2 separate regions of the Homo sapiens genome follow, and region 2 is linked to region 1. The links come from fine-mapping of genetic effects on gene expression. A gene starts in region 1. The other region holds a variant in brackets. All regions are shown on one strand. Distances are between the middles of the regions. Region 1 holds the start of TTC39A (tetratricopeptide repeat domain 39A). Region 2 overlaps TTC39A (tetratricopeptide repeat domain 39A).

What was found. PIP is the estimated chance that this variant, and not a neighbour inherited with it, causes the effect.
Region 2: its variant is fine-mapped to the expression of TTC39A in lung (TOPMed, PIP 0.99). The same link has a PIP of 0.9 or more in nasal epithelium.

Annotation. Positions count from the first base shown.
Region 1 is chr1:51,324,930-51,335,432 of GRCh38, forward strand. TTC39A (tetratricopeptide repeat domain 39A) reads right to left here and starts at 5,633. Exons shown (of 18, transcript NM_001297663.2): 1 at 5,508-5,633. The coding sequence starts at 5,548. It overlaps TTC39A-AS1 (TTC39A antisense RNA 1), which reads left to right and starts at 4,725. Exons shown (of 3, transcript NR_123731.1): 1 at 4,725-4,880; 2 at 5,201-5,284; 3 at 5,943-6,352. RefSeq lists a silencer at 5,606-5,675 and an enhancer at 6,493-6,542.
Region 2 is chr1:51,282,786-51,293,288 of GRCh38, forward strand. TTC39A (tetratricopeptide repeat domain 39A) reads right to left here. Exons shown (of 18, transcript NM_001297663.2): 15 at 7,729-7,840; 16 at 7,220-7,334; 17 at 6,054-6,170; 18 at 4,473-5,495. The coding sequence ends at 5,372. Among named protein-coding and RNA genes, the nearest start is that of TTC39A-AS1, 42 kb to the right of the region's middle. The variant G/A (reference allele first, on the strand shown) is at 5,447.

The DNA.
Region 1 (10,503 bases):
CTCTCCCATAATTGCCAAAGATACATCTTTAAAACCCACATCTGTCTGGGCATGGTGGCTCATGCCTGTAATCCCAGCATTTTTGGAGGCTGAGGCGGGCGGATCACCTGAGGTCAGGAGTTCGAGACCAGCCTGACCAACATGGAGAAACCCCGCCTCTACTAAAAATACAATATTAACTGGGCGTGGTGGCATATGCCTGTAATCCCAACTACTACGGAGGATGAGGCAAGAGAATCGCTTGAACATGGGAGGCAGAGGTTGTGGTGAGCAGAGATCGCACCATTACATTCCAGCTTGGGCAACAAGAGCAAAATTCCATCTCAAAAAAAAAAAAAAAACCACAAATGTCACTTCTGGACTTAAAATCTTTCCCTGGCTTCCCATTGCTCTTAGGGTAAAGGCCAAGTTCCTTTCCATGGCCTAAAAGGCCCCACCTGATGTGGTCCCTGCCCCTCTCTTCAGAGGCTGGGATGGTGTCTGTCTCTGCCCAGGGCATAGCCTAGTGACTGGTGTTCAAGCCATTCATCTCTGTTGGATGAATCAATGAGGCAGCAGTGAGCATCTACTGCCTGGGTGTTTAACTGGCATTCTCTCTGACTGCTCTCAAAATGCCCTGTGAAATGGGATTATTACCCCCCCACACCTATTGCAGATGGGGAAACTGAGGCACAGAGGACGGGTAACTTGGCTAAGGTCACACATCCAAGCTAAGGTCACACATCCAAGCATGCATTCTAACCCAAGTTTCTGCCTGAGCCAGTACCCATCAGCTCAGCCCCAGAAAGTCAAGCCCATTGTTGTGGTTTATGCCAACCTCTAAACAATTTCTGAGCCAAGAGCCTGCCTCCCATTTCTGCACACACCCCTCACCACCTCCATCCCCCACCGAGGAAAAGGTCCTGTCTACTTGGTCTACCTGGAGAGAAAGATCCAGGCCGGATGGACAGTCAGTGCAGACAGGCACAGTCCTTCCCTCGGCAGCCCCGGCACCTCTTCTGCTTAACTGGGATGAGGCTGTCTGCGGTAACCTCCCCCAGACTGGGGGCGAGCTGAGCCCTGGGCTGATTTCCTCCCTCCTTCCCTCCCACAAGCACCCGCGAATCTCGTGCTCTAGGCTATGCGTGGGACTGGGCTCTGGGGACACAGAGTGGACACAGACCTAGGCCTGCCTCTTCAGGAGCTCACAGCCTACAGGTGACAGATGCAGACAGGGCAGTGACCGCTACAGTGCTCAGGGCTGTGATCATGGGAATCACTGGGGGCCAAAGGGGCCCAGAAGACACCTCTAACTCAGCCTGGGGCACTGAGGAGGCTGGGCGGAAGGAGGATGGCATCATGGAAGGAGGATGGCATCAAGGAAAATGCCATCAAACTGAGAACAAGATGGAGAAAGAAGTCTAAGAAGGGGAAACAGCACACACACAGGGCTGGAGGCATGACACCACAGTTAGGAGGTACAAGCGTTCTGGAAGGGCTTGGAAGACAGAGGCTCTGCAAGGCCAGCTAAATGGAGGGGTGAGGCTGCGGTGGCTAGAGAGCTCAGGAAGGCTGGAGACATCCGCCCCATTTGACTTAATAATAGCATTAACAACCAACCACCCATCGCCACAAAGAGATTACCACTTCAACTTATTTAAATTGATGACTGCATTATTTCACTCAGTCCTGCCAGCAGGCACCCTTATCTGTCTTTGATAGATATGGCAGGGACAGGCAGTGAAGACAGGAACGCAGTCAGGCTCCTCTCAGGAGCCTGGGAGAAGACAAAAATGCATTCTGTGGAAGCAACAGCGCCAAACCTTTCCCCTCACCTGGCTGAGACTGAGGCCCCCATTTCTCCACAGGCTGCCCCTGCGTCTCCAAGACCTTTCTTTTCCAAGGACACCTTGCCTGGCCCAGGTGACATCTATTCCTGCGGTGATGGTGGCCTCTCCACTGTGTGTTGGGGAACAGAGGAGAGGGACGCGGAGAAGAGGTGCTGGGCTGGATGGAGCAGAGCTGGTGACCAATGCCAGGAGCTCTGGCACAGTGGTGGCGGCTCTCTCATTCAGATCCCACCCACACTTGAGGCCCAAACGAGAAGGGAGCTAGAGGGTGGGAGGGGGTGTCAGGTAGCCTGGAGCCGCCCCCACTCTCCCCTTCCCTCCCACTTCTCTACTAGAGTTGGCTTGGACTGCTGCTTCTGTGCCTCATGGGCAGATCTGGGTAGAGCTGGGAGACCCTCAGTTCCCACTGAGAACAGAAAATCCTCCTACCTCCATCCCAGTCAGGATGAGGTGGGTGTGGGGTGGGTGAGGCGGCGGAGCGGTCGCTCAGGAAGCCAACTGCAGTCAGAGCTGGATTTTAATCCCTGCTCCACCACTGAGGGGAACTTTGGCTCAACGAGTAAAATAATCTGCCCATGGGGATCTGTTGCTTTAGAAGTGATCTTTCTAAATTGCAAAAATGATTGTGACTCTCCTTCCAAAGAGTCCCCCTTAGCTGCACATAAATGTGTCACGGAGTGATGTAGCATGACCTAATGCAGTGTGGCCTGCAAGAGTTCTGAAAGCAGACAACCCTAGACTCAAGCTGCAGCTATTACTTGCTGGATAACCTTGGGAATGTTCCATACCCTCTATGAGCCTCCGTTTCCTCATCAAGGAGATGGGAATGACAGTACTTACCTCCCACGGTTTTTGTGAAGAATGACTAAGACTATGGAAAGCACAAGAGTACTCAGAAAATGTGAGTAATTATTATTTTTTTCTAAAATTATGTATTGCCATTTTTTTTTTTTTTTTTGAGAGAGGCTCTCTCTGTCGCCCAGGCTGGAGTGCAATGGCACTACCTGGGTTCACTGCAACCTCCGCCTCCCGGGTTCAAGAGATTCTCCTGCCTCAGCCTCCCGAGTAGCTGGGATTACAGGTGTGCACCACCATGCCAGGCTAATTTTTGTATTTTTAGTAGAGACAGGGTTTCACCATGTTGGCCAGGCTGATCTCAAACTCCTGATCTCAAGTCATCCACCTGCCTGGGCCTCCCAAAGTGCTGGGATTATAGGCGTGAGCAACTGCGTGCGGCTTTACCATCATTTCTTGATCAAGTAGCACTGACTTTATAATGAAACTAAATAACTTTAAAAGATTGAGTGGGCCAGGCGCAGTGGCTTACTCCTGTAATCCCAGCACTTCAGGAGGCCAAGGAAGGAGGATCGCTTGAACCCAGTAGTTTGAGACCAGTCTGGGCAACAAAGTGAGATCCTGTCTCTATTTTATTTTATTTTATTTTATTTAAGATCGAGTGCACATATCCAACAACCCAGCAATTCCACTACTAAGGGGGCACCCTCGTGAAACACATGTGCAAACACCATCATACAAGAATATTCACTGTCTGAATAGCAAGACACTGGGAACACTTCGACATCCATCAAGAAGGATAAACAAATGGAGGTGTCTACATAGGGTGGTATATCACACATCAGGGCAAGTGGGACAAGAGCTACAGGATCAAGGCTAAATCTGAGACCTGAAGTTGAGTGTGAAAACGCGAGCTGCAGCATGACACATGCTATAGGACTCCATTCACAGAAAACTTTGAAGAACAAACTACATATTTTTAAGACTTACACACACTGAGTAAAAGAATAAAAACAGAGAAATGATAAAACCTAAATTCAGGATGGCAAGTAATTCTGGAGAGGGAAGGAGGGAAGAGGTTTCCACAAGACTTTCAAGGGTCTCTACTATGGTTTATTTCTTAAAAAGAATATAAAATAAATGGGGCACAATGTTAATATCTGACAAAGTTGGGTGGCAAGGGTTTGTGAGTTCATTTTACTATTTGCTATATTTTTCTGAAGGCTTAAAATATTTCATAATTTTTAAAAAGGTAGAGATTTAAGGCTTGATTTGTTCACCAATGACCATCTGGGCCCAGAGCAGGCCTTGCTGAGTGTCTGTTGAGTGAGTGTCTCTGTAGTGAAGGTGAGAATGGTCCTGCTGCGTGCGGCCCTCCTCTGCTCAGACCCCACCAGGATGACACTAGCCAGGGTTGGGGACAGATGGACAGGTGGCTTCAAAGAAGAGTGGGCAGGCATGCAGAGAGGCAGGTACGGTTCTGCATAAGGAAGACCCACCAGCGTGAGAAGAGCAAGCTTGCTGTCCTGAGGCCTGCAGCAGGGCCAGAGGTGCCCGGGGTTGTAGAGGGCACTTAGGCAGGGATGTAAGCATATAAGGAAGTGGGATGAATGTGGTTTTCAGCCAGGGAGTCTAGACTTCTTTGATAGATACCTTGCTCCATGCCCGCCTTCTCTCCTGGAAACCACTTTTCTGGACCCAGCAGGGTGGTGGTGCTCAGTCAGGGCTGCACAGAAGGAACCTACCCAACCTCCAGCTTTACAAATACTTGAGCCCAGAACAGGAAAGGAACAGCCAGCCCCACTTCTGTGTTTTCCAAAGGAGGGACCAGAAGTCTAGGAAGGGTTAAGGACTTGGCCAAAGTCACACAACAAAAATGATGAAGCTGAAACTCACCAGGCAACCCTCTCCCAGGCCAGGGTGTCCCCCAGCAACCCAGCTTCCAAGCCCTGATAGAGCCACACACACGCAAGCCCTGTGGAGACTTCCAGCTGCCAGCTGGCACCAGCCTCGTCACCTCCCTGTTCATGTGTCAAGCCTCGGGCCCTTAGCAAATATTGTCACTGGTGGTGAGGCTCCAGGCAGGGTGAGCCCTCCTCCCAGCTCACCTGGGCCGGCTCTCTGCCCAGCAACCTCCCAGCAGTCAGGGCTCCTAGCAGCTGCCCCCTGCCCTGCCCACTGGGGCCCAGGAAAAGCAGAGAGTTGCTGAAGGTCTCCCGGCAGTAGCGGCTGTCACTGCTACGGGGGGTGATCTAGGTAGGGGTCCTATAGGGGTTTCTCAGTGGGATGTGGGTAGGGTTGGGCAGGAGAGCCACGTTGAAGGTGACAACACCCACTTTTTACTACCCAGGTTCCTGCTGCACCCAATGGGCCCGGCTGGCCCATACCTTAGCTGTTTAAGTTCCCCTAATGTCCCTGAAGATGATGGGGTGGGGGGATCTGACAACAGACAGAACTGAGTTCAAATCCCACCCGCAACTCTTACCTCCTGGGTGACCGATGACAAGTCACTTAAGTGCTGTGTCTCAGTTTCCTCATCTGTAATGGGGATGAGAGTAACAGGGCCCACCCCACAGGAGTGAACGCCACGAGGCAGGTGGGGAAGGCTGCTCTGAACGTGTCTGTGACTACAGCTCCGTGAGAAAGTTGGGACCCAGAAGGTGAGTGACCGACCCGGGGTCCCCGCGCCTCCGCCTCCTCACAGCCCCCTGCCCCCACTCCTGGCAGCGGCGGCGGCTGCCAGGGGCCGGGCGGGGTGGGGGCTGGAAGCCGCAGTGCGGCCCCAGGCCGGTGCGCGGGGGGAGGCCTGGCGCGGCGCCCGCCACCTGCCCGGGCCCCAGCCCGCGCCGCCCGCGCCCCCGGGCCTCCCAGCCGCGCACTTACCCCGCGGGCAGGGCTCCTGGGGCGCCGCCAGCCGAGGTCATCGCCGAGGGGCGCGGGCGGCGCTGCCCCAGCCGGACGCCAATCGCGGCCCAGGTGCTGCCGCCGCAACCCCGAGCCGGGCGCTGTGCGGTCGCGGACGCGGCGGCCGGGGAGGGGCGCGCCGGGGGCGGGGAAGGCGGCGGGGCCGGGCCGAGCCTCGGTCTCCCCACCCGCACCGTAGGGCCATGGCCGCCCGCGGCGACCCGCGCTCCCGCACCGCCGGGGGTTCTGGGCGGCCCCCACCCCCGCTCCGACAGGTGAGAGCCCGGCGCCCTCTGCGCAGACACCGCCCGGGCCGGGAGCTCGCTCCCTCCTCACACGTCCCCACCTATTTGGCGCTAGAAGTTCTTCTCCGGGACCTGAGGTCCACTTTACTGTCACTTCTCCTCCCCACAGCTTCCGCCCCGAAGCGGCCCCCACCTGAGCCGTCACCATCCTCCCGCATTAATGGGGGCATTCGTGCAGACAAAGACAGCCCCCAGAGTCAGGCCTGGATTTTAATCCCACCATCTCGCCCACTGAGTGACTGCAGGAGACCAGAAGGCGGGGAAAACACGGTTTAGCACTCACTGCTAGCTGGCAGTTCACACTGCCTTCTCAAATGATCCCCATAATTGCTATTTTACAGATGGGGAAACTGAGGCATGGGGTTCATTTGATTCACGCATGGTCACTCACCTAATAAGTGGCAAGCTAGGACTGGAATCCATCCCTCCTGAATCCAAAGCCAACACTCTGGCCCCTTTCCCCCTTGGCCCCCTCTCCCCTGCATTCCCAGTGCCTGTGTGGGGGTCACCCACAACGCTCCCCAAATGTCCACTGTGCACCGAGCCCTGAGGCGGTGTCTCCACCTGACCTGATCTTCTGGCACAGAAAGCCACTGGCCCATGAAGAGTTAACCAGTCACCATCTCCTGGCCCCAGATGCTGCTCTTAACCATGACTCATCAGAGCATGTGGCTGCCATTAGAGCTGTCCCTTCACAAAGGAGGGGACAGAAGTAAGGAAGGACTGTAGCTCCCCTGGAGCAACTATGACCTCCAGGACGTCAGAAGAGGAAGCAGAAGGGGACAGCCTGCAGAAGCAACCACGGTGGGAACAGGACTTGTACCAGATCCCAGGGGAGCCAGGCAGTTTGGGCTTGGTGGTAGCTGCTTAAAATCTAAGCAGGCTGCCTGGAAAGGCAGTGAAGTCCCATCCTGCCCATTTGTGAGCAGGGGCAGATGCTCACTTGCAAGAATCATCCCATCTCTAGGAGTCTCATATACAGGCACGAAAAAGATAATTAACTACTAGAAGTAAGCTATGATGACATCCACCAGCAACTATAAAGAATCCAGACAAGGGGAGAGACTGGGGAGCTTCCTGGAAGAGGTGGTGACAGAACTGAGCCTTGAAGTTTATATTATTTAAACAAACTGAAGTCATGGAGAGGGTGTACCAGATCGGGGAGCAGCATGGATGAAGGCATGGAAGTGGGAAAGGGTGAGGCTGGTGAGACCACAAGCAATACATGTAAAGAGGATGATGAGGCTGGGGCCCCTATCACATGTCATGCACTTTCAAATCTCTAGGCATTTAAACATGCTGTTCCCTCTGTGTGGAACACACCTTCCTCCCTTGTCACTTGTTAGTCATTCATGTAACCGGGGGTGGATCCAGAAGCTTACAATGGGGAGGCCGCTGTTCAAAAAAAGAATACAAATTTACCAATACAGGTTGAGCATTCCTAATTTGAAAATCCGAAATCCAGAATGCTCCAAAATTTGAAGCTTTTTTTATTTTCTCTTTTTTTTGAGACAAAGTCTCACTCTGTTACCCAGGCTGGAGTGCAGTGGCACAATCTCGTGATCTTGGCTCACCACAACCTCCGTCTCCTGGGTTCAAGTGATTCTCATCCCACAGCCTCCCGAGTAGCTGAGATTACAGGCATGTGCCACCATGCCCAGCTGATTTTTGTATTTTTAGTAGAGACAGGGTTTTGCCATGTTGGCCAGGCTGGTCTCAAACTCTGGACCTCAAGTGATCCGCCTACCTTGGCCTCCCACAGTGGGATTACAGGCGTAAGCCACCGCGCCCGGCCTGAAACTTGAAGCTTTTTGAGCACTGTAGTTGGAGACTGCAGGCCTGCCATGTTTGCTGTGCTGTTGTTACAGCGGACACAGGCATTCTACTGATGCTCACGTGCTGCTGAGTTACCCTGAACACTATTTTTTCACTGCATTAATGGTATGTTATATTTTTATTGTTAAGTACTTATGTGTGAATAAGGGTAAAAAAATGCTTATTGGGAGCACATAAATTCAGAGTCAAAAATGATGATGATGCCAAATAATCACAGATTGTCCACATGGATGGCTGAGAGAGTGACACTTCTTTCTGATGGTTCAGTGTACACAAACTTTGTTTCATGCACAAAATTATTAAAAATATTGTGTATAAAATTACCTTTAGGTGGCTGGGCATGGTGGCTCATGCCTGTAATCCCAGCACTTTGGGAGGCTGAGACAGGCAGATCACCTGAGGTCAAGAGTTCGAGACCAGCCTGACCAACATGGAGAAACCCCATCTCTACTAAAAATACAAAATTAGATAGGCATGGTGGCGCACGCCTGTAATCTCAGCTACTCGGGAGGCTGAGGCAGGAGAATCGCTTGAACCCGGAAGGCGAAGGTTGCAGTGAGCTGAGATCACATCATTGCACTCCAGCCTGGGTTAACAAGAGCAAAACTCCATCGCCCCCACCAAAAAAAAAAAAAAAAAAAAAATGACCATTAGGCTATGTGTATAAGTTGTATATGAAACACAAATGAATTTCATGTTTAGGCTTGGACCCCATCCCCAAGATAATTCATTATGCATATGCAAATATTCCAAAATCCATGAAAATCCAAAAATTGAAACACTTCTGGTCCAGAGCATTTTGGGTTAGGGATAGTCAGCCTGTATAAAATTGCCAGGGTTCTCCCAGAGCCTTGGCAGGGGCCAGGTAAGTGAAGAATCCTGAAGCTATAAGCTGTATTAGCTCCAGAGTAAACCTTTACTGTATTTGACCAACATTTGTTGACATTTTGCCATATGCCAAAACTCCTCCTAACCCTGCAGGTTTCAGTTCAGATGTCACCTCTTCCAGGAAGCCCTCCCTCCATAGATGGGTCAGGGGCTCCCTTTGCACCCACTGCCCTAACCCACTCTGACCTACCTTAATCACCCTGAGCTGTCACTGTCTGTGTGTGGTATGTGTGTTTGGGGTGGTGGGGAGCAGAGAGTGAGGTTTGTATGTGACTGTCTGCTTCTGGAGGCTAGGGCCTGGTCCAGTTCATCTCTGTGTCTCAGGGCCTGACATCAGGTACCTGACTAGTCACCAGACACTAATGCGGGGCCTAGCACTTTACAATTTCCCTCTGAGGTTATTATTATAACAATGGCTGACACACATCACAGGCTTTTTACATGCTACACATGATGTTCAGTGTATAACATGGATTATCTTATTTAATTTTCACTTTACCACCTCTCTGAGCCTCAGTTTCCTCATCAGTAAAATGGAAATAATATTGCCGACTTCCAAGGTTGCTCCGAGTATTAAGAATTCATATATAAGCTGAGCATGGTGGCTCACACCTGTAATCCCAGCACTTTAGGAGGCCAAAGCAGGTGGATTGCATGAGCCCAGGAGTTTGAGACCAGCCTGGGCAACATGGTGAGACCCTGTCTCTACAAAAAAAAAAAAAAAAAAAAAGGCCAGGCCAGTTGTGGTGGCTCATGCCTGTAATCCCAGCACTTTGGGAGGCTGAGGTGGGCGGATCACCTGAGGTCAGGAGTTCGAGACCAGCCTGACCAACACAGAGAAACCCTGTCTCCACTAAAAATACAAAATTAGCCAGGTGTGGTGGTGCATGCCTATAATTCCAGCTACATGGGAGGCTAAGGCAGAAGAATCGCTTGAACCCGGGAGGCGGAGGTTGCGGTGAACCAAGATCGCACTATTGCACGCCAGCCTGGGAAACAAGAGTGAAACTCCATCTAAAACAAAAAAAAGCCCGGCATGGGGTACGTAGTCCCAGCTACTCCAGAGTCTGAGGCAGGAGGATCAATGGAGCCCAGGAGGTTGAGGCTGCAGTGGGCCATGATGGTGCCACCGCACTCCAGCCTGGGTAACAGAGTGAGACCCTGTCTCAAAAAAAAAAAAAGAAAGAAAATAGCAGAGTGCTATATAAATGACCTAGTGATGGTTGTGGTGGACCACTAGACACTACTTTCCTCCCCATTTCACAGATGAAAAATGAGCTCAGTAAGGGAAGCAGAAGAGCCGCCTTTAGAGCTGGAACTCTCCCCACACCATCACAGCGAACAGTGATGCTAGAGCCAGTCACCTGGTGAGTCAGCGCATCAGAGTGGCCCACCCCTCAGGAGGGCCCCACCCAGGCCGTTCCTGGCCCCCAGGAGCTCTGGCCCAGCCCCAGCACAGGGGAGTCTGTGAGTCACCATCATCATTTCTGCCTCCCCAACTCAAGTGACCTTACTTGGATCACCTGTGTGTCCCCACCTTGAGGTGACAGCTGGGCCCTGGCGATGGGACAGCATCCTGAGTCCTGGATGCCTTCCTCCTGTCAGGAGACCTGTTTCCTGGTGCGTTACATCTGGGAGATGCCAGGCCTGCTTTCCTCCCTCATTTCCTCCCCAGCGTGCAAGAACAAATCACCAGTGTCACCACACCTCTCAATGGCCCTGAGAACTTCATGGACTGCTTTCACCTGTGCCATTGTCAACTTAAGAAGGCCCTTAATATGGCCGGGCGCGGTGGCTCATGCCTGTAATCCCAGCACTTTGGGAGGCTGAGGCGGGCAGATCACTTGAGATCAAGAGTTCAAGAACAGCCTGGCCAACGTGGTGAAACCCCACCTCTACTAAAAATACAAAAAAAAAAAAAAAAAATAGCTGGAGGTGATGGTGGA
Region 2 (10,503 bases), 42 kb before region 1:
CATCTCAGTACCAGGAGGACAAAGCTGTGGCCCGTGGGCCACTTTGACCCACAAATGTGATGTGCTTAGCCAAGCACTCATAAGTGCTTAAACTATAAAACAGTTTTTAGTGCCTTTGGCATCATATGCTTCCCAGTTTGCCAGTGATCCTCTTTCTTATTGTCTTATACCAAGCCCCTTCTAGCACATGACTTGCTATGCATCAAGCCTCAGTGCAGGCTTCACTTCCCATCTCTGGAGTAGTTGACTGGAACTCTACCTGAGTGGGGATTGGATCATGCCTTTTCCTCCATCATCCCTCGATGATTTTCTGAGCAAATACTGTTGTTTAAGGATTGCTTTTCTTTTGGCTTTTTGCAAGTTAGGCCCTCTCCCTACTTCATGATGCCAAGTGCCAAAGGGAGCCATGCCACAAAGACATGCTCCATGTGTTTGCAGCCAAGCATCTCCAGCGGTTGAGCTATTAGTCAGTACTTCTTCCATTTTCACAGTGGCCCAAGAGTCAGTATAAGCTGGGTCTAACTTTACACAGGATTTTACAGCTTGACCAACAGTGTAGCAAAGTACAGGCTTTAGAGTTCAGCAGCCTGTCTTCAAATCTTACTGCTGCATAATCGTTGTGTGATCTTAGGCAACTTATTTACCTGTGCCTCAGTTTTGCCATCTGCAAAATGACAATGGCCCCACTTCATAGGATTATGTAAATATTATGAGGATTAAATAAATGTAAAGTACTTAGAATAGCAACTGGCACATAATGAGTATTTAATAAATACTAGCTTTTATTCTTTTCCCCAGAGCATATTGGTGTCTGATGTTCTGGAGTGTTTAATGTGGAGGAAGAAAAACAAACCTGATCTAGTCATTTGTGAGACATTAGCTGTGATGTCTCTGATTAAACATCCACTTTTTTTTCTTTTTTAGACAGAGTCTCGCTCTGTCACCCAGGCTGGAGTGCAGAGGCGCGATCTCGGCTCACTGCAAGCTCCACCAACCGGGTTCAAGCAATTCTGCCTCAGCCTCCTGAGTAGCAGGGACTACAGGTGCCTGCCACCACGCCCACTTAATTTTTGTATTTGTAGTAGAGACCGAGTTTCACCATGTTGGCCAGGATGGTCTCAATCTCCTGACCTTGTGATCCACCTGCCTCGGCGTCCCAAAGTGCTGGGATTACAGGCGTGAACCACCACGCCCAGCCAAACATGAACTTTTAACAGTCCATAGAGACCTTCAATAGTTCATTCTATGTCTTCCCAAAGGGCTCTATTCTTATTTTGTCACTTAACAGTTGACTTTATACAGTGGAAGCAGTCATAGATTACTCATTTAGAGATGGAGTTTTCGAGTCCCCAAATGAGGTTTCTTGTTTGTGGACCTAGCCTATTAATCAGTAATGAACTTTGCACTGGAATTCAAAGGAGCCGTGCTAACCCGAGCAGAAGGCACTTTCCGACCTTGGAAGGCTGCATCTGAGGGTGGGCGTGAGAAGTTCCCATTTGCTGCTTGGATTGCAGAATCCAGACACCTCTCATTTATTACTGAATTAGTGTGATGATGCTGAGGATGTTGAGAAGGCACTGTTAGGCTTTAAATTTGAAGTAAACAAGGAAAAGACTGTTGACTCCCATCATCTTAGAAGAAATGATCTTGGGAGTAACTCCAGAGGAAAGGGTCTGGATTTGATTCCTTGAATGGTTCTAGTACTCAGCACACTGGGGCTTTCTTAAAACCTCTTGGTGCCATTCTTCACTTGGGAATCTCCCACCTGGACCTCAGCCAAATCTTGAGTTGGTGTTGGCCTTTTAGGATCCTGGCTTTGATGTCAGGTTGTGGCTTTCTGCTGTGAATGATAACTGTCTTGGAAACACTCCCATTCTGGCTCAAGAGATAAGGAATAGGGCAACCTGCCAACCCATGGGAGAGCTGAGGGCCCAGCACACTGCTAGAAGCCACTCTGCCATTCTGAGGGCCTGTGATCAGTGAGAGGCTGAGGTAGACTTTCTGTTGCCAAGGACCTGTTCAGATCATGTTACATCATTGCTACTTCCCTAACAACTGAATTCATCTTGGGGCACAGGATTTAGACTTTCTCTAAATGAGGATTACTTGCTCTCTGGGTGTTCTGGCTACTGTAGAGCCCCTAAGAAGTCTATTATTTCTGGTTGAATTGCTTAGGGACACAAGGCTTTGGCAGAAAGGTAGGGAAGTGTATCTGTTGCCTCATTTTGCAGATGAAAACCCATAAAGAAACTGTAGAAGGCAGGAAAGAGCCTTAATCTTGTCCAAATTGCTCATTTTTAGAGGATCTGTGACTTTCCCAAGGTTACTTTGAAAATCAGTAGCAAAGTCAGGACTGGAATTCAGGTCTCCTTATTTCCAGGCTCAAACCTTCCACCTGATCTGTGGCCTCTCCATGGCAGATGTGCTGGGAAGGTCTGCACTATTAGAGAAGCAGTGACCACAGATGACTCAAATAAGACATTGAGAGCCTATGACAGAATTTTCACTTTCTTGAAAACGCCCTTGCATAAGGATGTGGTGATGTTAGAAACCCAGTGTTTTCATTGTCCTTCACATATGTATGTATATGTATATATTTGATAGATTATCTCAGAATTTGCAGGTGGGGTACAGGAGGCAAAACCCACTGATTTATCTTATCAGGGCAGCAGAGGTAAAAGTGACATAGGATTAATTAACAAAGCCCAGGAGGAAATAAACAGCAAATGTTGACGAGGAAATCATCTTGACCAAATTTTAAAATGAAAGCACCCGTGGCCGGGCGTGGTGGCTCATGCCTGTAATCCCAGCACTTTGGAAGGCCAAGGCAGGTGGATCACGAGGTCAGGAGATCGAGACCATCCTGGCCAACATGGTGAAACCCCATCTCTACTAAAAATACAAAAATTAGCTGGGCATGGTGGCGCATGCCTGTAATCCCAGCTACTCAGGAGGCTGAGGCAGGAGAATTGCTTGAACCCGGGAGGCAGAGGTTGCAGTGAGCTGAGATCGCGCCACTGCACTCCAGCCTGGTGACATAGCGAGACTGTCTCAAAAAAAAAAAAAAAAAAAAAAGCACCCGAAATGAGTTTTTTTGTAAACTGCAATTTTCCAAAGTATGTGTTTGGTGTCCTGTGAGTAGTGCTGCTTTGATACAGCAGCAGGCAACATTCCAACATGTGGGGAAGCCATGGAGGCCTGTCCTCCTGCAGCCTGTCTCTACCCGCTCACCCTGTCCTGTCCAGGAGCCTAGAAACAGGTTGGTCTCCCAGCATCCAGGCTTTGGAGAAGAGATAGCTTGCAAAGGGATTACTCTCTATGGAGGACATTCTTTTGTTTCATTCTAATAATATGAGAGATTTTTTTTTCATAGCATTTCTACTCTGACAATACTCATTGGAAAAGATAATCTTGGGTGAGGGTTTTTTTGCTTTTTTTCCTAATAATATATTTTGCCTAAAACCCATTACTTCATTCGATGTCACCCATAGGAGGCTGGTCAACTGGATCTTTTTTTTTTTTTTTTGAGATGGAGTCTCCCTCTGTCGCCAGGCTGGAGTACAATGACACGATCTCAGCTCACTGCAACCTCTGCCTACTGGGTTCAAGCGATTCTCCTGCCCAAGTAGCTGGGACTACAGGCATGCGCCACCACGCCCAGCTAATTTTTTAATTTTTAGTAGAGACGAGGTTTCACCATATTGGTCAGGATGGTCTCGATCTCCTGACCTCATGATCCACCCACCTCAACCTCCCAAAGTGCTGGGATTACAGGCGTGAGCCATCGTGCCCGACCGACTGGATCTTTATATATTAACCCAGACCCTTGGCAGATACTCGTGTTTGTTAAATACAGCAATCCTAGAAGATTGGAAAGTTTAACTGGTTCTTCTCTCGTAGAAACTGCATTCATGCATTTGGGGAGTAACGTTTTCACAGATGAATATTTTTACTGTGTGCATGATTTTCCCTACGGGGAAATGGTTAGGTTGAAGTGTGCTGACATCAGAAAGTGAAGAGTAAAACCTGGTGTTGGTCATTGAACCTGAGTTCTCACTTTAACAATCCTAGAGGTTGCAAATTCAGATGCTTTTAGGGGCCAGAAAGGTAACAGAAGTGTTTAAAGTAGCCTGGACTTAGCTCTAGCTGATTGTTGCCTCATGGGAATGAGGCTCAATGTTGCCATTTTTGTTTGTTTGTTTTTAAATTACAGGCCAGGAACCAGATTCATCTGTAAAATCTCCCCATTTGTGAATGCTGGTAACTTATTCAAAAAGTTTAAAACATTGTGTGGTCTAAATAAAACATACATAGGCCGTGTGGCTTCTGATCAAGACTTTCTGCCTGGCCTAAGGATTCATGCAACACATATTTTATTGAAATACATGATGCACGATCCCTTAAGGGCATAAATTTTATCACTTAAATATCTCTTTTCTCTTAACTGAAGAATCTAACGCATACACAACAGGTCAAGAATAACAGTTTTAACAAAAATGCTGTCAGTAAGCAAATGTACCTTGGAGTGAAGTACAGAAGATTTTTATGTTTCATAAATTATTCCCAGTGGTTTCAGTTTGGCATACAGCAAAGATACAGACTGGATTCTGAGAACCTCCTCCTGCCCCCCAAATTTCCTGGCTTTGGCATAGAAAGGGCTACACAGCTCTTCCATCAAGCCCTGGCATTTTCTACTGGTAGAGATTGATTTTTCTACAGAAGAGCTCAGATTTTATCTCACTAAAAAGACGTGCTTGATTTTTAAATTGGAAATTTACAAAAGGAGTGAAATGAAGTGTGAGTAGTAAGGTAGTGGGTGTCTGTGTACATCCTCATGCCCAACCCCAGAAGCATTGAAGCCTGAGGCTTAGCCTCTCCCAGGCATTCCTCAGGTCCTCTGAAGGACCTTCCGTCACACAAGCTGAGAACTTGCTGAATTTGAAAAGCAATTTGCCCTTTGGCATCATCATATAAAGAGATTTACCTCCAGATGATAATAGGTGAAGACAAAGACTTACAGGTGGTTGATTGTTGTTGGTTTTTAAAGCCAACTGTGATCCCATCAATGTATTTCTAAGGAAAATGTAAACTGTTCATACATTCTCTTAAACATCACAGTGAAAAGCAAGTACCCGTATGTGTGATAGGGCAGGCAGAGGGCTCCACCTGCTCTGCCCTTGGCAAAGGCCCTTGGCTACACTGGTGAAAATGCCAGCTCGGCTTCTGCACGGATACACTATGTTGTGCCATCCAACTGGAGTGCCGGTGGACCCCAAAGGCAGGGCAGGGCAGGGGGAGGGGGTATTTTGAAATGTTTTCAGGAGCTCTGTCCAGCTGTCTCTGTCTTCCAGCCCGGAACTGCTGCACAAAGCTACAAGGACACTGATGAGACCATGGATCTGCTGCTGTTCTCTAGGGAAGACTTGGCTTGGAGTGTGGCTGCCTG[G/A]ATTCGAAAGTGTGTCCTTGACTCCATGGAGTAATTCTTGTAGTTTTGCCTGGAATTGAGCAGCGAATCAGACACATGAGGCTGCCTGCTCCCAGAGATGCTTTTCCTCCTGTTTGAGCTGTATGAGCCCCGCGAGCCAAGGAAGGATTGTAGAGAAATTAATGTGTCCAGAGAGAGTTGAGCCCTACCCAATGGGAGAGTTAACCAGAAGGGTTTGTGGCCCCTCATCCCTGGTATCATGGCCACTGGAACCACTCCTGGTCCTCCTGGGTTCCTAAGCTTGAAGGGGTGGTTTTAGGGAATAGACCCCTACCCTGGAAGGCAGGAGGCATGGGTCCTCACACAGCCATGCAGTTGGCTTCTGATGTGACCTTGGGAACTTACTTCCTGCCTCTGGGAGTCTAACTGCGCATTTATACATTAAGAAAGAAGTCTTCCTATGACAGGCGAGAGCTGGATTCCGAGGGACACAGGTCCACCCTCTAGACTGCCAGACTGGCCTTGCTAGCAACTCCACTCACTGCTCTCTGGGCAACTCTGTCCCCAGCCAGCTCCTGAGCTGAGTTCAGAGGGAGCAAAGGACAGACTGAGGTTACCCAAGCCTTACTTGGCAGATTCCAAAAGTTTGATGGCCTCTTCGTTTCTGTCTTGCTCCATAAGCAGCAGGGCCAGCTCCAGCAGGGCGTTTGGGATCAAGTAGTGGTCATATTTAATCTTCTTTTCACTGCAGAACAGAGGACATGGCTCAGGTTCCTCCTCCTGAGCCTCTCCCAAACTGCATGTGAGGATTTCCTAACCCGAACTCCAATTTTGGGAGGTTCCCACTACCCAGCCCTAGAAAGGCTGGGATCCATAGCAAAGCCTTCCCATCCTGTACCTTGGGCTCCAGCTCCCTGACAACCTATGGCTCCTGTCATGTCCTTAGTCCACCGCCACCTAAGTCCCGACCTCCCTTTCTCCAGGTTGAATGGTTTATTAAACTGTAAAGTCTCCTGTCTCTGATCTACCCTCTCTGACCCGACCTCCATGCTGTCCTGGAGATATCCTTTTAAACCCCAAGTCCTCCTTGCCCGGTACCCTTTCTGGCTGTCTTCTTTGGGATACAATTTAGCCTTGTGAACAAAACATCCAGGCCCTTCTCATTCTATCCCTCCTTTTTCATCTTCAATCTTTTCTCTCTATGACTTCACCCAGGCAGGTAAAGACCCCATCACCGTCACCCCAGCCTCAGATGTCTTTCCTGTGTCCATGCACTGGTGCATGCTGTACTTACTCCACTTCAAACCTGTCCTCCCTTGCTTTCTCTGCCTGATGAACTTCCCACTTTCAACATCAGCCTTGGAAAGCCTTTCCTGGTATCTCCCATTAAGTTTAGGTCCCTTCTTGGGGCACCTGCTGTCCTCTCCGCTTTCCTTTAGCATGGCCCTGACGAGCCTTGGTTGGGTTGCCTACAGCTTGCCATCTGTCACATTGCCCTCCCTGAGGGCAAGGATAGAGTCACCGAATTACAAACTCCAGGGGACACTGTTCACTCAAAACAACGTGGATGGACTCCTGTAGTCAGGCAATTTGGTGGCACTGGGAGGCTAGGTCTGAATTATCTGTACAGCTCCCGGCACAAGTCCTGGCACAGAGTGGACACTGGTTTAGTACCTGTGTGGTGAGTGGGGGTTGGCTAGGGTCAGCCACTGCAGTGGGCATGAGGATGGAGAAGCCCTGAATATTCTACCCAGGAGACTCAGACCCAGAAGGAGCAGCTGCAGAGGCACTTACTTGGCAGAGATGCTCCTAAAATTCTCCTCGGCCTCCTGGACACGGCCCAGGTATTTCAGACACAGGCCTTTCAACAATTTCACCAAGCACTCGTCATCCACTGAGTACTCGTTCTCTGAAAATAGGGATGTGAGGGAAAAAGACAGACTTGTTCATTTCTGCAGCAGTTACTTATGGAGCCCCCTACTTTGTGCTAGGTCAAAGGGACACAGGTAAATCAGACACAGTCCCTGTCCTCAGCAGGGGTCACATCTAAGAAGGAAAGGCAAATACTGAGACAATGACAATACAGTGAGGTCAGCACTGAAGGAAGCCCCAAGGCTGCGGGAGCCCAGAGGCTTTGACCCTACCAGGTGGACAAGGAACAGCTGCTTGGAGGAGCTCAGTCTAGAGAGATAAAGGAGAGTTGCCAGGGTAGGGAAAGGAGGAAGGACATTTTTGGCAGAGGGAAGCTTCAGCTGTAAAGACCTGACCTAGCATGGCAGGCCCAAGGGCCTGAGGGAAGTCACCTGGGCCTTTCTCCAGCATCTCTTCAGCCTTAGTGATAATCTCAAGTATCCCATCCGTGAGTTTCGGCTGCTTCCCAATCACGGCGTAGCCGTTCCAGATGTACATCATTTCCTGAAGGCAGGGGGGCAAGTCAGTCCTAGGTTTCTTCCCTAATGGGGCCTCAGTTTTCCCATCTACAAAATGGGCAGTTCAGATCAGAGGTTCACTAAAGGACCTTCTAGCTCTAATCATCCATGACAGGTCTCAGTCAGCCTGTGAAGCTGTGGGTCTGAGGGGGTTATGGGAGCCTTATCATTGATTTCCTCCTGAGATCTCACCTTACCCCAGTGAAGATGTAAGATGGACCAATGTCCGTAATGTGCTGCTCATAGCTGCCCAAGTTTTCCAGCTATTTTCCTGCTCATGCCCTCCCTGAGTGCTATTATGTCCTTTCTCCCAACCTCTCTGGGGCCAAACACTTTCTGTCCTTTGAGGACCAGGCCATGCTCCATACACACATTTCAGGACAACAGAATTTAAGGCTATGTCACCTTCTCTTCTACTCCTAGTCTCCCAAAGCAATGGGCTAAATAATGACATTCATATTCCATTTCCTTTAGAATGAAGTTACCATCATTGAGACTCTTAAAACACATCTGATTCCTTTTATTCTTTTTCTTAGATTCTTTTTTTTTAGTTAAAAAAATTTGGGGGGGGCCAGGCACAGCGGCTCACGCCTGTAATCCCAGCACTTTGGGAGGCCGAGATGAGTGGATCACCTGAGGTCAGGAGTTCGAGACTAGCCTGGCCAACATGGTGAAACCCCATCTCTACTAAAAATACAAAAATTAGCCGGGTGTGGTGGCACACACCTATAATTCCAGCTACTCGGGAGGCTGAGACAGGAGAATCACTTGAATCCAGGAAGCGGAAGTTGCAGTGAGCCGAGATGGCACCACTGCACTCCAGCCTGGGTGACAGAGACTCCGTCTCAAAAAAAAAGTCTTGGGGCCAGGTATGGTGGCTCACACCTGTAATCCCAGCACTTTGGAAGGCTTAGGCAGGTGGATCATAATCACTTGAGCTCAGGAGTTCAAGACCAGCCTGGGCAACATGGCGAAACCCCATCTCCACCAAAAAAAAAAAAAAAAAAAAAAAAAAAATTAGCCAGGCATGGTGGTGCAAGCCTGGGGTCCCAGCTACTTGGGAGGCTTAGGTGGGAGGATCGCTGGAGCCCAAGAAATCTAGGCTGCAGTGAGCTATGATCACCCCACTGCATTCCAGCCTGGGTGACAGAGTGAGATTCTATCTCAAAAAAAAAAAAAAAATTCTTTTCACCATGTCTTTGTCAGGCTATTGGTTCCTTTTGTTTGTTTGTTTTTGCCTCGACTGCCAGGAAGCTCAGAATACTAAATTAGGCTGAATGCAGTGGCTTACGCCTGTAATTCCAGCACTTTGGGAGGCTGAGGTTAGAGGATCTCTTGAGCCCTGGAGTTCAACACCAGCTTGGGCAACACAGTGAGATATCATCTCTACAAAAAAATAAAAATAGTAGCTGAGCATGGCGGTGCACACCTGTAGTCAGGAGGCTGAAGTGAGAGGATCCTTTGAGCCCAGGAGTTTGAGGCTGTGGTGAGCTGATATCACCACTACACTCCAGCCTGCATGACAGAGTGAGACCCCACCTCTAAAATAAATATTTAAAAATAAATAAAATAAAATAATAGTACTAAACTTTCATTCATAGTAACTGTGTTTGCTTAAATGAGCATTTCCTAAACTATCAAAGAAGATAATGGATGTGAAAACACTTTGTAGCCATAAAGTTCTAGAAAGACATTATTGTTGTGGTTCTTGTTATGTTCTAGGAAGGGAATTTCAGTTTAGACCAGTATTTCTCAACTGTTCTGTGGTCCCAAGTTAGCAAATGTTTCATTCTATTTTATTTTATTTTAGAGACAGGGTCTCACTCTGTCACCCAGGCTGGAGTGCAGTGGCACTATCACAGCTCACTGTAGCCTTGACCTCCTGGGCTCAAGCGATCCTCCCACCTCAGCCTCCCAAGAAACTGGGACTACAGATGCAGGACACCATGCCCCACTAAATTTTGAATTTTTTGTAAAGATGGGGTTTCACCATGTTGGCCAGGCTGGTCTTGAACTCCTGGTCTCAAACGATCCACCTACCCTGGCCTCCCAAAGTTCTGGGATTACAGGCATGAACCACCACACCCAGCCAGCAAATGTTTCATTTTTTAAAAAAGGATTCTCCCCTTCCCCCGAAATAAATAAAAATTAGAAATGATTCTGTGGCCAAATAAGTTAGAGAAAAAACATATCTTTAAACTTCTTCTTAGATTAATATATAAAGACTCCAAGAAAGCCTATAGTATATAAACTGTGTTTAGGCCAGTCTTTCCCAAATGTATTTAATCACATAAATCATTTAATGCATAAACAGTATTTTGCAGATTACAGTTTGGGAAATTCTCCCCTAAGTTTTTGGTATAGTTGCTGCCCTTGCCCTTCCTACAATATCCTCCTGCTCCACTTGATAGTAATAGCTTTACTGTATTTTTTTTTTTTTTTTTTGAGATGGAGTTTCACTCTTGTTGCCCAGGCTGGAGTGCAATGGCACGATCTCAGCTCACTGCAACCTCCACCTTTCAGATTCAAGAGATTCTCCTGCCTCAGCCTCCCGAGTAACTGGGATTACAGGCATGCGCCACCACGCCCGGCTAATTTTGTATTTTTAGTAGAGGTGGGGTTTCTCCATGTTGATCAGGCCAGTCTCTA